Linked DNA regions of Homo sapiens. The protein of the gene in region 2 purifies or fractionates together with the protein of the main gene of each other region. This does not show direct contact. Each region holds a gene or a part of one and is shown on either strand. Other genes may lie near its edges.

Region 1 (3,706 bases), on a different chromosome or scaffold from region 2:
CTCTACTAAAAATACAAAAATTAGCCAGACGTGGTGGCAGGTGCCTGTAATCCCAGCTACTTGGGAGGCTGAGGCAGGAGAATCATTTGAACCTGGGAGGTGGAGATTGCAGTGAGCCGAGATTGTGCCACTGCACTCCAACCTGGGTGACAAGAGTGAAACTTCGTCTCAAAAAAAAAAAAAAAAGGAAATGCAGAGGTGTTGCCTTTGTCTGACTGAGTTGCAGGTTTCCCCTTGCCCTTCGAACAATTTGTGTCTACGCAACCCCTCTGGGATTCCAGCTCTTTTAAGTCAGCTTGTCCACGTTAACCAAGGTCCGGAGATTGACAGCACGGAAGGAGCACAGTGATCTTCCATCGAGTCAATGTTTCCAAGAACTGTGAGCTCAGGAAAAGATGAAGAGTGATAATAAAGAAGACTGTTCAACTAGACTTCACACCTTGTTTGGACATCAACCTATAACTTCAAATACAGACACACATGGGTAGTTTCTGCTTACCTCAACGAAGGCTGCCAGTACAGCCAAACCATCCGGCGCATCTTGGGCTATATCATAGCTCTTGTATTTAGAATTGTAGTGAACAATGTGAATCTGTAAGAGCAAGGTAGAGTGGGTCAAGGGCAGTTCATAGAAATTCAAATGCTTAAGATTTCCAGGGAAGGAGGAAGAGAAAGAAAGGTGCTCCGTCTGAGGCCTCAGACTGTTCCACACAAGCAACTTGGACCTCCATCTCTCTCCATCTGGGCTGCAATTCCTATCTATCAAGAGCAGAAACTTCCCCAAGAATGGAAAGAGCAAGAGTGGGATTCTGGAAGATGGCAGTTCGAGGCCATTTCCCGACCACACCTCCCTCCAGGCAGACAAGCTGGCAGAGTCTGAAGGGATCACATGAGGACAGTGGGTTCTCCTGGAGTGTCTGGGGGCTTTGCAGGGAGAGTGAGCTTGCGCCCCTTGTCCCAGGCAACCATTGTTAACATGTAGTCATCCTATGGATGGATTCTGGCAAAAGAGGTAACTCAGAAAATCTAACACAGTCCAGGCACAGTGGCTCATGCCTGTAATCCCAGCACTTTGGGAGGCCGAGGCGGGTGGATCACTTGAGGTCAGGAGTTTGAGACCAGCCTGACCAACATGGCGAAACCCCGTCTCTACTAAAAGTACAAAAATTAGCCGGCCATGGTGGCAGGTGCCTGTAATCCCAGCTTCTCGGGTGGGTGAGGCAGGAGAATCATTTGAACCCAGGGAACGGAGGTTGCAGTGAGCCAAGATCATGCCACTTCACTCCAGCCTGGGCAAAAGAGCAAAACTCTGTCTCAAGAAACAAAAAAAAAGAAAATCTAACACATAGAAATCCAGCTGAAACAAAGGAGGGCTTGCCACACCCTGTGGGCTGTGAAGTCCTGCCAACCTGAGTCCTGTGAGGGCAGGACCTTGCCTGAACCCCTGTCACAAAGTGGTGATCTGTCAATAGTTGCTGAGTGAATAAAAAATAAACTCAACTTCAGCATGACTTAACTGCTACCATCGCACAGTCTTTTGGCTGTTTTTGTTTGTTTGTTTTGTTGCTCAGACTGGAGTGCAGCGGCATGATCAGGACTTACTGCAGCCTCAGCCTGCTGGCCTCAAGCGATCCTCCCACCTCAGCCTCCTCAGAAGCTGGAACTATAGGCGTGTACCACCACTCCTGGCTAATTTTTTTTTTTTTTTTTTTTTTTGTAGACACAAGATCTCGCTACATTGCCCAGGCTGATCTACAACTCCTGGGCTCAAGCAATTCCCCTGCCTTGGCCTCCCAAAGTGATGGAATTACAGGCGTGAGCCAGTGCACCTGGCCTTGGCTATTTTAATAAGAAAAGTGACGGCTGGGCACTGTGGCTCACGCCTATAATCCCAGCACTTTGGGAGGCCAAGGCGGGTGGATCACCTGAAGTCAAGAGTTCGAGACCAGCCTGGCCAAAATGGTGAAATCCCGTCTCTACTAAAAATACAAAACTTAGTAGGGCATGGTGGCGGGTGCCTGTAATCCCATTTACTCGGGAGACTAAGGCAGGAGAATTGCTTGAACCCAGAAGGCGGAGGTTGCAGTGAGCTGAGATTGTGCCACTGCACTCCAGCCGGGGCAACAGAGCGAGACTCTGTCTCAAAATAAATAAATAAAAAGAAAAGTGACTATGGGGTTCAAAGGAAAGAGGACACAGTGGGGGTCCTCAGGTACCTCGATCACATGTCTGATCCCGTCCACGGTGTGCTCAGAGCCGCTGATCTCCGAGGACGCACCTCCCCAGTGAAAGTGCATCTGCTGGGCTATGTATACAGTGCCGTCAGCCACTGTCATGCGCATGGTGGAGGGCAGGCTGATCTGCACTGGAGAGACAAGGTGGGGCTGAGAGCAGAGTAGGTGAACACAGAGGGGTCAGGCCTACAGGCTGGGTAGCTTCTCTGCTCACCTCCCACCTGTCTGAGCCCAGGGCAAGCCAATACCATAGACTGGCTTAGAATGCCATGGGCAGGGTCACCAAAGGAGAAGAGGCGTTTGCGCACAGGGCACAGGGTGAGGTCAGGATGGAGGCCAGGCACTAAGTAAACCAGGCTGGGCAAGTGCCTCTCCCCAGCACGCTCCTTCCCGCCCAGAACCAACAGGCCAGAGGCAGGACCACACAGTGGCAGGTCCAGCTTGCTGGCCCCAGGGAAAGGGAAGGTCCTGAAAAATTATGGCCAATGGGCTTGGAAACTAGAATTCTACTCTCTATCTCTGGCCAAGTTTGGAATTTGCCGAAGGTATAAGAATAGGAAGTGGGGCCTCTTAGAACTGTTTTCTTTTCTTTGTTTTTTTTCATGCTCACTCTGTTGCTCAGGCTGGAGTGCAGTGGCACCACGATGACTTGCTGCAGCAACTCACTGCAGCCTCCAACTCCTGGCTTCAAGGGATCCTATCACCTCAGCCTCCCGAGTAGCTGGAACTACAGGTGCCCGCCACCATGCCTGGCTAATTTTTGTGTTTTTAGTAGAGACAGTGTTTCACCATATTGGTTACGCTGGTCTCGAACTCCTGACCTCAAGTGATCCACCTGCCTCAGCCTCCCAAAGTGTTGGGATTACAGGCATGAGCCACCACGCCCAGCTGAAATCTCTGCCTTTTGGAATGAACTACACAAAAAGAAAAAAACGGGCTCAGTTACTAAGAAAAGTGACTAAGAAAAATATCTATGAGGATATAATTTCGGCGTTGGAAAGGCAGCATGTGTCTCATGAGCAAGATCTTCCTATTTATTTATTTTGAGACAGAGTCTTACTCTGTCACCCAGGCTGGAGTGCAGTGGCATGATCTAGGCTCACTGCAACCTCCGCCTCCTGGGTTCAAGCAATTCTCCTGCCTCAGCCTCCCCAGTAGCTGGGATTACAGGCATATGCCACCATGCCCGGCTAATTTTTGTATTTTTAGTAGAGACAGGGTTTCACCATATTGGCCAGGCTGGTCTCGAACTCCTGACCTCAAGTGATCCAACCTCCTCAGCCTCCCAGAGTGCTGGGATTATAGGCGCGAGCCACTGCGCCTGGCAAGATCTTCCTATTTAAAGTCATCAATGGTGGCTGTAAACAAGAACATTTTCTTAAAAGATAGCAAATATGAGGTATTTAAAACCTGTCACGTGCCCCCTCTTTCTTTCCAAATTGTCTAAAGGAGCGGGGAGCTATGATTAAATT
Region 2 (3,706 bases):
ACACATAGAGTGGCTGCATTCTTCTTCAGCGCTGTGTAGGATTTTACATGATGTACGCACTACAATTTATTTACCCATTCCTTTTTCTGATTGTTTCCAATTTTTCGCTATCGCTGAGAATGTTGTAGAAAACATTCACAGCATGCATCCTAGTGCGTGTGTGAGGTTTGTTTTTTCTTTTATAAGGAAGATATTGAGAAATGGAACAGCTGGATTCTACAGTATATGATCACATTTTAACAGACACTGCCAAGTTGTCCTCTAAAGGTGACAGTTCAATTTACTCTCCCGCCGAGGGTAAATTAGGAAAATACTTTTTTTCTCAGTCTTTCATCAGCCATGAATTCTTCTCTCCTAGAAATCACCTCTACTCAATAGTTTGGAGCCCACTGGTAATTTTCTTCCTGAAATGCCATCGCTTGCCCCCTTATGCCTCCAGTTCTCTCCTCCCTCTGCCCCTGCTCCTCCACAGGCTGCTCCTCTTAACACACCCTGCCCTCGGGGGGCTGTCTCATCATCCTGCCATCTCCAGTCCTGTCTTTCCTTGCTTCCTCCGCAGTCTTGCCTCCTGTGGTTCTAGCATTCGGCTTTACGCAGGTTGATTTTCTTAACTAATGTTTATTCTTACAATATGCCAGGCACAGCTCTGGGCTGGGACCCAGCAGAGAACAGAACCAGAAAAGAACTCCTGCCCCTTCCCTCCTCAAAGCATGCCTCCAAGTGGGGGAGAAGGGTAACAAGGTATACAGGTGAGTGCGTGCTGAGGTAGGTAATTACGAGCAAGAAGAAGAAATAAGGAGGGAAGGGAGATCAGGAAGAGGGAGGCAGAGGGAAGTGTTGACATTTTTGTTGGGATGCCCAAGGAAGGCCTGCCCATGAAGGTGACTTTTGAGGAATATCTTGAGACTGAGAGAATGAAGCTGAAGACCACGTAGGAAAGAGCGTTCCAGGCGGAGCGGCTGTGAAGCCCTGAGGTGGGAGCTGGCTAGGATCATTGAAGGACTGCAGGAGGTGGCTGTGGCTGCAGCAGCGGGCCAGGGAGAGGATAGGCAGAAGCAGGAGGGGGTGAGATGAGGGGGTGAGATCAGGGGGGCCATAAGGAGCCTAGAGGGCCATGTGAGCCTTTGGCTTCTCCCCTGAGTGAGCTGGGGGCCCCTGGAATGTTCTCAGGGGTAAAGGTCATGCTGTTTCATGTGATTCAGGTTTACCGGTATCAGCTGGCTGTGTTACTGAGAACAAACTGCAAGCAGATGAGGGTTGCAGGGAAGTCAGGAGGCCAGGGCAGTAATCCAGGCAGGAGATGATGGCGGGTGGACAAAAAATGCAGAGGGGGTAGTCAGGAGGCCTAAGAGGGATTAATTCTGGGCGTACTTTGAGGGCAGAGCTGACAAATTGTGTTGACAGACTAAACAGGGAGTGTAAGGGAAAGAGGAGTGAGAGGTGCCTGCAGGGTGTCTGGCCTGAGAAACTGCAAGATGGAGCTGCTGTGAGCAGTGGAGAGGGAAAGTGGGCAGAGCTGCTGGTGGGGGTGAGTGCTAGGGGTCTAGCTGGAAATTTGGGGCATACTAAGTCTGAGATGCCTACTCAACATGGCAGTGGCTACGAGAGGTCCTGATTAAAGACATAAATTTGGAAGTTCATCGCATATAAATGTCATTTAAAGTCATAGCTACTCCTGACTCAAATCTCCTGCCTTCATCTTTCTTCCAAACTCCAGAACGTAATTTCCAGCCACTGGCTTAATATTTCTTAATAGTTCATTCCACCCCACACCCTGCCATTTCTCCTTCTTAAATTTCTTCTTCCAAAATTGGACTCTTAAGGTACATCCCAGATCTCATCATCCTTTAGCTCAAGAACCTTCACTGGCTTCCTGTTGCCAAGGATGAGACAGGCTGGACTCTCCTGTTGCACATCCTCCTCCAACCAGACCCAATAGCCTGCTGCTCCCCAGAAGTGCCCAGGTTGCCTGCACCTCCCCTTCGCAATGAGCCTTCCTCAGGAACAATAAGAACTAACGCTTGCAGAGCCCTGACTGTGTGTACGCATGGAGTTAATTACTTTACATGCACTTGCTCATCAGAATCTCACATTGGTGAGGCAGGGATTCACATTCCTCTGTTACCAACAAGGAAACTGAGGCTCATAAAGGTAAAACCACTTGATTTTCACCTTGACTGCAAAGCTACTAAATGGTGGAGCCCAATTCAAACCATATGTGTTGACTTCAGAGCCCTTGTGCTTATCCTCTGCTCATGCCATCTCCCTGCCAGAAGTGCCAAAAATGTAGGCAGGAGATAAGTGACCAGGGAGAGGTGACAACTAAAGCTGACATGATTTGTGGACAAACTAGATGGGGAGTTTCCCCCCCAATACTGATAAGTTGTGTATTATAACAAAATGTTCATTTATGCATCCTGCTTTAATAAAATTTTTGGTATGTAAATGATCTAATGGAACTCCTACAATCATGCTGGTTGTGGCAGGAGCAAGGAACTTATGTCAGCAAAACAGCAGAGCAGACAGCTCCAAACTCCCATTCCTCTGCAGATACATAAAAAACAAAACAAAACCCAGAAACAGTCAGAACCAACATTGTCAAAACTCTGGAAAACAGTCAAAGGTCTACAGCAACCAAGTGAATACTGAATCAAAGAAAAGGCAACTTTAAAATGGTAGGAAAGCTTTGTGGCATGTTTGCCTGCCCTTGCCTCACCTTTTCTCTGACCTGGTGGCAGTCTTGAAGATAGCAGCCTGTGTTCCCAGTATGGGACTCTGGTTCTTGATTCCAGAGGGAGGTGTACCAACAGGGAGTAGGTCACAAGGACCACATGCTTCAAAGGGCAATAAAGATCACAGGGCAAGGCAAAATTAGGATTACTGATGAGAGTCTATGTCCCGCTGTGCACTCATTGTCTTGATAAGCATCTTAACAGGAAACAGGGTTCGAGAGCAGACAACCGGTCTGACTAGAATTTACCAGGCTGGAATTTCTCAATCCTAGTAAGCCTGAGGGTACTGCAAGAGACCAGGGCGTATTTCAGTCCTTATCTCAACCGCATAAGACAGATACTCCTAGAGCAGCCATCTATAGACCTACCCCCTGGAATGCATTCCTTTCCCAGGTTCTCAATTATTAATATTCCTTGCTGGGAAAAGAATTCAGCGATATTTCTCCTACTCACACGTCTGTCTACAGGCTTTCTGCAAGAAGAAAAATACGGCTGTATTCTGCCCGACCCCGCAGGCAGACCTCCTGTTTATCTTCCCTCATTCCCTGAAAATCACTGTTATTCTGTTCTTTTTCAGGGTGCACTGATTTCATATTGTTCAAACACACATATTTTACAATCAATTTGTAAAATAGTGGTCCTGAGGTGACGTACATTCTCAGTTTATGAAGATAACAGGATTAAGAGATTAAAGTAAAGACAGGCATAAGAAATTATAAGAGTATTGATTGGGGAAGTGATAAATGTCCATGAAATCTTCACAATTTATTTTCAGAGACTGCAGTAAAGACAGGTGTAAGAAATTATAAAAGTATTAATTTTGGGAACTGATAAATGTCCATGACATCTTCACAATTTATGTTCTTCTGCCTCAGCTCCAGCTGGTCCCTCTGTTCAGGGTCTCTGACTTCCTGCAACAACCCAGTCTGAGGAGTAGAAAGGAAAAAGAATGAAGAAAAATGAACAGCCCTGGA

Evidence for each region. The genes of interacting proteins can lie anywhere in the genome.
Region 1: the proteins of C10orf53 (region 2) and CA6 purify together in Homo sapiens (affinity purification with mass spectrometry; one large-scale study listed by BioGRID and IntAct). This does not show direct contact.

Annotation. Positions count from the first base shown.
Region 1 is NC_000001.11:8,955,796-8,959,501, reverse strand, and holds part of CA6 (carbonic anhydrase 6 isoform 1 precursor), read right to left. Parts: intron 2,366-3,706; coding exon 2,217-2,365; intron 593-2,216; coding exon 500-592; intron 1-499. UniProt on the Homo sapiens protein: Reversible hydration of carbon dioxide. Its role in saliva is unknown.
Region 2 is NC_000010.11:49,685,998-49,689,703, reverse strand, and holds part of C10orf53 (UPF0728 protein C10orf53), read right to left. Parts: intron 1-3,706.